2 linked regions of the Homo sapiens genome follow. The protein of the gene in region 2 purifies or fractionates together with the protein of the main gene of each other region. This does not show direct contact. Each region holds a gene or a part of one and is shown on either strand. Other genes may lie near its edges.

What was found.
Region 1: the proteins of GSC (region 2) and IAH1 purify together in Homo sapiens (affinity purification with mass spectrometry; one large-scale study listed by BioGRID and IntAct). This does not show direct contact.

Annotation. Positions count from the first base shown.
Region 1 is NC_000002.12:9,481,051-9,484,550, reverse strand, and holds part of IAH1 (isoamyl acetate-hydrolyzing esterase 1 homolog), read right to left. Parts: intron 3,266-3,500; coding exon 3,104-3,265; intron 120-3,103; coding exon 1-119. UniProt on the Homo sapiens protein: Probable lipase.
Region 2 is NC_000014.9:94,767,723-94,771,429, reverse strand, and holds GSC (homeobox protein goosecoid), read left to right. Parts: upstream 1-1,316; 5' UTR 1,317-1,414; coding exon 1,415-1,769; intron 1,770-2,212; coding exon 2,213-2,472; intron 2,473-2,780; coding exon 2,781-2,939; 3' UTR 2,940-3,207; downstream 3,208-3,707. UniProt on the Homo sapiens protein: Regulates chordin (CHRD). May play a role in spatial programing within discrete embryonic fields or lineage compartments during organogenesis.

The sequences.
Region 1 (3,500 bases), on a different chromosome or scaffold from region 2:
CTGGCTGTCCTGCATCAGGGTCCACAGGTCAAGTACGTCAGTCCCACAGTCTTGGGCCACTTGTAAACACGCATTGGCATATTCACCAACAACAGAGTTCAGGCGATTTAGTTTGCAACCTATTGAAGAGAAGAAATAGAGGTGGCAGTTGGTAAACCCAAGTGCTGGCCCTTGTGTAAGTTCTGCTCCACTCATCTAGACAGTTTCAAAATGCCATTAAATATTGACCCCACTTGGGCCAGCCCCGGGGTTTAGGGTATATGTTGATGAGCCTTGCAGGTTACTGGTGTGCTGCTCTACCCAGCAGAGGACAAGGTGCAGTGGGAAGAAGGAGCCTTCAGTGGTAACCGGAATCTTCTGAGGCGCCAGGGAGGATGTTCTAGAGGACACCTTGAACAGAGGCAGAGAGGCAGGAAAGGCCCAGGAGGGCTGGGCTGCTTGGAGAGTGCCGGCTGCAGGAGCTGGGCTGGGGGCTGGTAAGGGCTGCACTAGTAGGAAATGCCAGGCCATGGAAGCTGAACGCTGCGCTGACACCGCTGGCTTCTTACATGTAACAGCTGGACCGCAACACAGCAAAATCATTTGTCGGCTTTAGACAAAGAGACCTTCGTTTTGATGCCTACAATTTTCACTAAATAGCGGTGTGCCTGAACAGCTTAACCGTCCTGAAGCTTTCTGCATTCTTATGATGACAGTGCCTACCTAGTTGCAGGAATATTGGCAGGATTAAGAGACTAAACACCAGCAAAGCAGCTAGCACAGAACGATTGAGTGTATCTAACACAAGTGCAGGCTGCCTCATCCTCCCAGGGAGCTGCACCAGGGAAGGCTGGAGTGCAGTATCTGGGGATTGTGCTAGGTTGGTTTGGAAGGTGGGGCTGGGGCTAGGGGAGAAGGCTCAGGAGGCTGCAAACAGGACAGTGAGGGCTGGCGAGAGGCGGACTACAGAATGGTATTAAAGAGAAAGCATGAGGATATGGGCAACTGGATGCGGGCCACAGGAGGACCTATGCTGGCCCAGGCTCTACATCACAGCGAAGAAACTATTCACCAGCTTTGATTCATACTTGGGATCAATTGTTTATAAAATTCACCTAGATTATAACTAGCTACCCCATCCCTACAAAAAAATTTAAAAAATTAGCTGAGCATGGTTGCACATGCCTGTGGTTCCAGCTACTTGGGAGGCTGAGGCAAGAAGATCACCTGAGCCCAGAGGTGGAGGCTGCAGTGAGCTATGAGTAATCCACTGCCCTACACAGCCTGGGTGACACAGCAAGACCATCTCAAAAAATAACCTGCTGAATTTCTAGGGGACCAGTTATTGAGATGTGACCCCTCCTCTACCTGCTTTGCCCATCACTGACCTTTTAAAAAGTCTGCATTGGGCTACATTCAAGGCTAGAAAGGGGAAATGAAATTAAACATTCAGAATTTCATATATATTATTTTCCTGGGAAACAGTAGACAAAAAGAAGTCTAAACAGCTTCTGTGGACCATGCTATGTAACATTTTTCCCCTTTTGTTAAAGCCAAGATGACACTGCCCCCCAAAGCAGTTAGGGCTGCAGGCCCAGAAGCAAGCTGGGGCTCTGAAGTTGTCTCCAGGGGAGCTTTGTGGGCCTTAAACACCTCCCCTTCCCTGCAGAACACTCTGGTGTCTCATGCACAGCAATAGGGCCCCTCTGCCCTGATGTGATGCCCAGAACCTACTGTCACCACGTCCCGCAGGCTGGGGTTTCTCCCCGTTTGTCTGTGCCTCCGGTGTGTGGCACCCCTTGGCATATGCTGTTTGTGACTTGAGAACGCATTGGATCCTTCTCTAAGGATGACAGGCCCTTTGAGAGCAAGGGACATAGCTACAACCCCACTCAACAGTAAACTCATACAACAGTAAGGACTTGAGCTGTGAAGTCACACTTGCTGGATTTGATTCCTGGTTGTGTTGCTGGCTGTGTGATCTTGGGCCGGTTACTTAGCCTCTCTAAGACTCCATTTCTCCACTGGTAAAGTAGGGACAATAACAGCCTTCCATGAAGTTGTGGTATGTGTGCTGTGGTGTGTGTAAGAAACATCTGGAGTGCTGAAAATGGGTCCAGAAATCTACCTAAAAATCCCAGTTAACTCAGAGTCAGACCACACTTTGAGAAATAGCTGTTCTGTGTTGCAAAGCCAGTCATTTGTCCTAGAATGTTGAGTTCTGGGCAGCTTAGAAAACTTCCAGTCCAGGAACGGTGGCTCACGCCTGTAATCCCAGCACTTTGGGAGGCTGAGTCGGGCAGATTACCTGAGGTCAGGAGTTCGAGACCAGCCTGGCCAACATGGTGAAACCCGTCTCTACTAAAAATGCAAAAATTAGCCGGGCGTGGTGGTGCACACCCATAATCCCAGCTACTCAGGAGGCTGAGGCAGAATTGCTTGAGCCCAGGAGGCAAAGGTTGCAGTGAGCCGAGATCGTGCCACTGCACTCCAGCCTGGCTGACAGAGCCAGACTCTATCTCCAAAAAAAAAAAAAAAAGAGAACTTCCATAATGCACATTTTCAACATTAACATACAGCTGACCCTTGAACAACACAGGTTTGAACCGTGAAGGTCCACTTATGTGCAGAGGTTTTTCAGTCAAAGGTGGATTGAAAACACAGCACTTGAGGGATGTGAAACCCAAGTATATGGAGTGCTGGCGACTCCTATCTGATCATTCCTACCCCCAGCTTCTGTGGACCAGTAAAAAGCCCCAGGTGTGGACTTCCAAGTCAAGGCACATCAGCATCAGCCCCCGCAGGCCGAGCACCACAGCTCTACACAGATCTCAGTGGCCTTCATGTGCACCCTGGAGTCTGGTAACTGTAAAGGTCAGCAGATGCCAGGCCCGCGGTTCCCTCCTGACTATCCAAAGCCAGAATCCCTTTTCTAGGTCAAAAAAGGTCTCAGGTATAACATAATGGAAGCTATAATTTAATAATTTTGGATTGAAAACAGACTGAAATGGACATACCGAGCCCCTAAGAAACAGAAGCCCCAGGCAGGAAACCACTGTCCTATCAGAGTTCCTCCCTCAGCATTCCTATCCAGATTTGCCGAGATTGGCTGTGGTTTGTTTACCTTGTATGATGCACTGTTCTTCCCAGGCTGTTTCACAAAGTGGGGTCGGCGTGATGAGAATGACTCGATTCTCAGGGATGTCCACGGACTTCAGGTACTGCACCATGCTCTTTAGGTTCGCAGCGTACTCCTCCAGGGGAATGTGCTGCTTGGGATTCTCATCTGCTCAAGAGAAACATGAGTCCTCACCAGATGCATATTTATTATAAGTGACAATTCAGGTGAACACACTTCTGCAAATGCCTGTTATTCATGATGTCACTGGGGGGATTGTTTAACACCAAGGACACAAAGAGAAGGTTTTCTCCTTATGAATTAAAATGTATAGTTCTTCATAAAACAAGACTTCAAAGGCTCTAACTAGGGGCACCGTAAGTACTCTTGTCTTTTCGTCACT
Region 2 (3,707 bases):
GCGCTCGGCCGCCTGCTTGCCGTGAGTGGTGGGCTGGCTGCGCCTCCCGTGGCTCGGGCAGGCTGGCCGTGCCATGCCGAGAATCCCGCAAATCATCGCGGCCGCCTGCCGCTATCAGACCCGGCCATCGTCCAGGCCACTGCGGCCCAGGGAATCCACTCTGGGCCTGCCAGGCGGAAGGGCAGGCCTACCGGCAGCCAGCAGGTCGTAAGGAAAAATGCGACCCAATTATTGGGGAAGAAGATAGGGAAGTCCCAAAGACCCCATCTGGATTGAAAATCAAAAAAATAGTTTGGGAGAGAAGGCACCACATTTCCAAAACTAATTTTTTAAAAGCACAAAAACTACCGACACCCACGCTGGGAGCAGCTAGAAGCACCGCTTCAGACTGCAACTCTTGGTGGCGAATTTTAAAGAGCGGCTGAATTTGGTCTTCGCTGTGTAGGACCTAGGGACTGCCATGGTAGTTTTCAGACCCAGAGTGGCTGGAAAAAAAAATCTTTTTAAGAAGCACGATGCACCCCTCCTTTAGTCGTTTTTGCCTTTACAAAATTTGGATTTTACAAAACCAAAAGTTTTTTGGGGGGGTTAACAAGTTCCATTCGGGAGAGAAACTCAAGATTTAAAAAAGAGGTAAATCAGGCGGTGAGTACGTGGGGGCGCGGAGGAGTGGTGGAATTTTCAATCCTGCTTGAGAGGGGATGCAGCCCCTCACATTTTCTAAAACAAAACCAATTCCGAAAGGGGGAAAAAAGTAGCCCCAAAGTAAAATCGTCCACAATGAATTTGAGCTACAGGCAGAGGAAATCGCACCCAATAATAGGACCCAATCTGAGAAAAAAGGGTGGGGGTGGAGAGCTCGGGCGGAGGGAGTTGTTAACTGCGGCGGCACAAAGGAATTAATGAGATTAACCAAGGCAATTAGGCCGCCCGCCCAGCTCGGCCGGCCCGCGGCCCGGCTGCCGAATGGAAAAGATTAGGTTAATTTCATTAATTCGCAATCCACAATCTCTTTTCAGGCCTTGTAACCCCCTCCCCTTGGCACCTCTCCCCCTCCCCCCAACCCTCTTCCCCCACCCAAAGGAAAAGAAAGGGCCAAATCTGGTTCTGTTTGTCATCTGCATATTACCAGGAACTAAATCCAGGATGACGTCGACTCAGTATAAAACCAACAAGAGGTTCAGCTGGTCTGAGCTCCGTCCTACCCGCGGGTTGAGTTCAGCGAACGCTGCGGCTAGGGGAGGGCGGGAGGAGGGAGAGCGGACGCAGGGGGCGGGGAGGGGCGCAGGGCTGCGCGCTCGCCGGCGCTCTCTTTCGGTTTGGTCGGCGGCTGGAGGAGAGTGGACCCCCCCACTTTAAGGCTCTGTCCTCGGCGCGTTCCCGCCGCCCCCCGGTCCCGACGCGGGGCTCGGGGATGCCCGCCAGCATGTTCAGCATCGACAACATCCTAGCCGCCCGGCCGCGCTGCAAGGACTCGGTGTTGCCGGTGGCGCACAGCGCGGCGGCTCCCGTCGTCTTCCCGGCCCTGCACGGGGACTCGCTCTACGGCGCCAGCGGCGGCGCCTCCTCGGACTATGGCGCCTTCTACCCGCGCCCCGTGGCCCCCGGCGGCGCGGGCCTCCCGGCCGCGGTCAGCGGCTCCCGCCTCGGCTACAACAACTACTTCTACGGGCAGCTGCACGTGCAGGCGGCGCCCGTGGGCCCGGCCTGCTGCGGGGCCGTGCCGCCGCTGGGCGCCCAGCAGTGCTCCTGCGTCCCGACGCCCCCAGGTAGGGTCGCGCTCGCTCCGGCCTCTGCCGCCCACTGCGGTCCTTAGCCCATGGAGCCGGTTGGTTAATTCACCTTCCTCAAACTTTGCTCCTCTTGCAACTCCCCCCTCCGCTTTTGCCGATCGGGCGCAGGAGTTTGCAAACTTCTTGCTGCAAACTTTTGGCCAGAGTTCGCGAAAACTGGAATTCAGTGCCTGCCCGGGGAAACTGGGTTTTGTTTTGTTTTGTTTTGTTTTGAATTCTCTTACTGGCTTTGGCGGGTGTGCGGATGGATGCTCTAACACGCCTCCTCCTTTTCCCTGCACCCCTGATTCCCGTGCACCCCCAATTCTCAGCATCCCCTTGCAGACGACTTCTAAGTGGAAGAGGGTCGGGGGCTGGCGGGCGTGCATGCGTGCGGTGGCGAGGGCGGGCGGCTGACCGTGCGCCCCACTCTGTCGCAGGCTACGAGGGCCCCGGTTCGGTGCTGGTGTCCCCGGTACCGCACCAGATGCTGCCCTACATGAACGTGGGCACGCTGTCGCGCACCGAGCTGCAGCTTCTCAACCAGCTGCACTGTCGGCGGAAGCGGCGGCACCGCACCATCTTCACTGACGAGCAGCTCGAAGCTCTCGAGAACCTCTTCCAGGAGACCAAGTACCCGGACGTGGGCACGCGCGAGCAGCTGGCCCGGAAAGTGCACCTCCGCGAGGAGAAAGTGGAGGTAGGCGCCGGGGCCTGCCGTGGGCGCCTAGCGGTCCTTCCCCGCGAGGTGGGGCCCCAGTCGGGTTTGCCCAGCCCTGCTTGGCTCTCCCCGCACTTTAAAAACATCCCGATGGCGGCCCGCAGGCTGCTGGAGGGCGCTTTAGGCCCAGGAAGTTGAATGAAAACGCGGAAGCGGGAGCGAGCGGCTCCCCTCCTTTTGTTGGCCTGCGCGGGGTGTCCCGCCGCCACACCAAGCTCCCCGGGTGCCCCGGGACTGGGGGAAGCGCGCCTTTGATCTGAACTGTTTTGTCCTCCGTTGCGCAACAGGTCTGGTTTAAGAACCGCCGCGCCAAATGGAGGCGGCAGAAGCGGTCCTCATCAGAGGAGTCGGAGAACGCGGAGAAGTGGAACAAGACGTCGTCGTCGAAGGCGTCACCGGAGAAGAGGGAAGAGGAAGGTAAAAGCGATTTGGACTCGGACAGCTGACGGCCGCGGGACACTTGCCCGTATTACTTACCTAACTCGAAGGACTTGCACAGACAGACGATGCTACTTTCTTGCACACGCGCTGCCTTGCGGGAGGGGGTCGAGAAAGAGGAACGAGGAGCTGTAAATAGTGTACAGAGCCGGGAGGGTCGGCGTCTGGGGTCAGGGCGCGCACAGCCCAGCAGCCCGAGGCCGCCCGCGACTAGCCCCCACCGTAGTATTTATAGTTAAATTAAGGGTGACAGTACAATAAAGTGATGGCGATGTAGACGGGCCACATTCTGTATTTCATACCCCCCGCCCCACCCACCCACCACCATCAGTCTGGAGCCAAGAAAAGAAGTCTATGTAGTCCGTAACCTCCGGAGGAAAAAACTGAGCAGCTATGATCTACCTAAACAAACAAACAAACAAGAAATGAAGCTCTGGGTAACAGTCACAGCATGGGTGTCCTGGTTTAAAAGGAAACCTTATGTCTAGGAAGGTTTGGAGAGTAGCATTGCTGGGCCAGAGCCGGGAGGAGGTACCATTGCAGTTGAGAGGGGCAGCCTGGGTCCCTGACTCCCCTCTGCCGAGGGCAGAAGGAGCACTTCTTCCCTCACTGATGAGGTGGGAGCTAGGGGAGTCCGGGAGCTCCCACGGAGCCCACTGCTCCAAGCTGCTCAGCCCTGCTTCTGAGAAACCTAAGGCGGCGGGTCCACGGGGGAATTAGGCAGCGGGCATGCCACCTCCCCCAGCGCTTTCCTGGAACTTCCACAGATGCTCCAG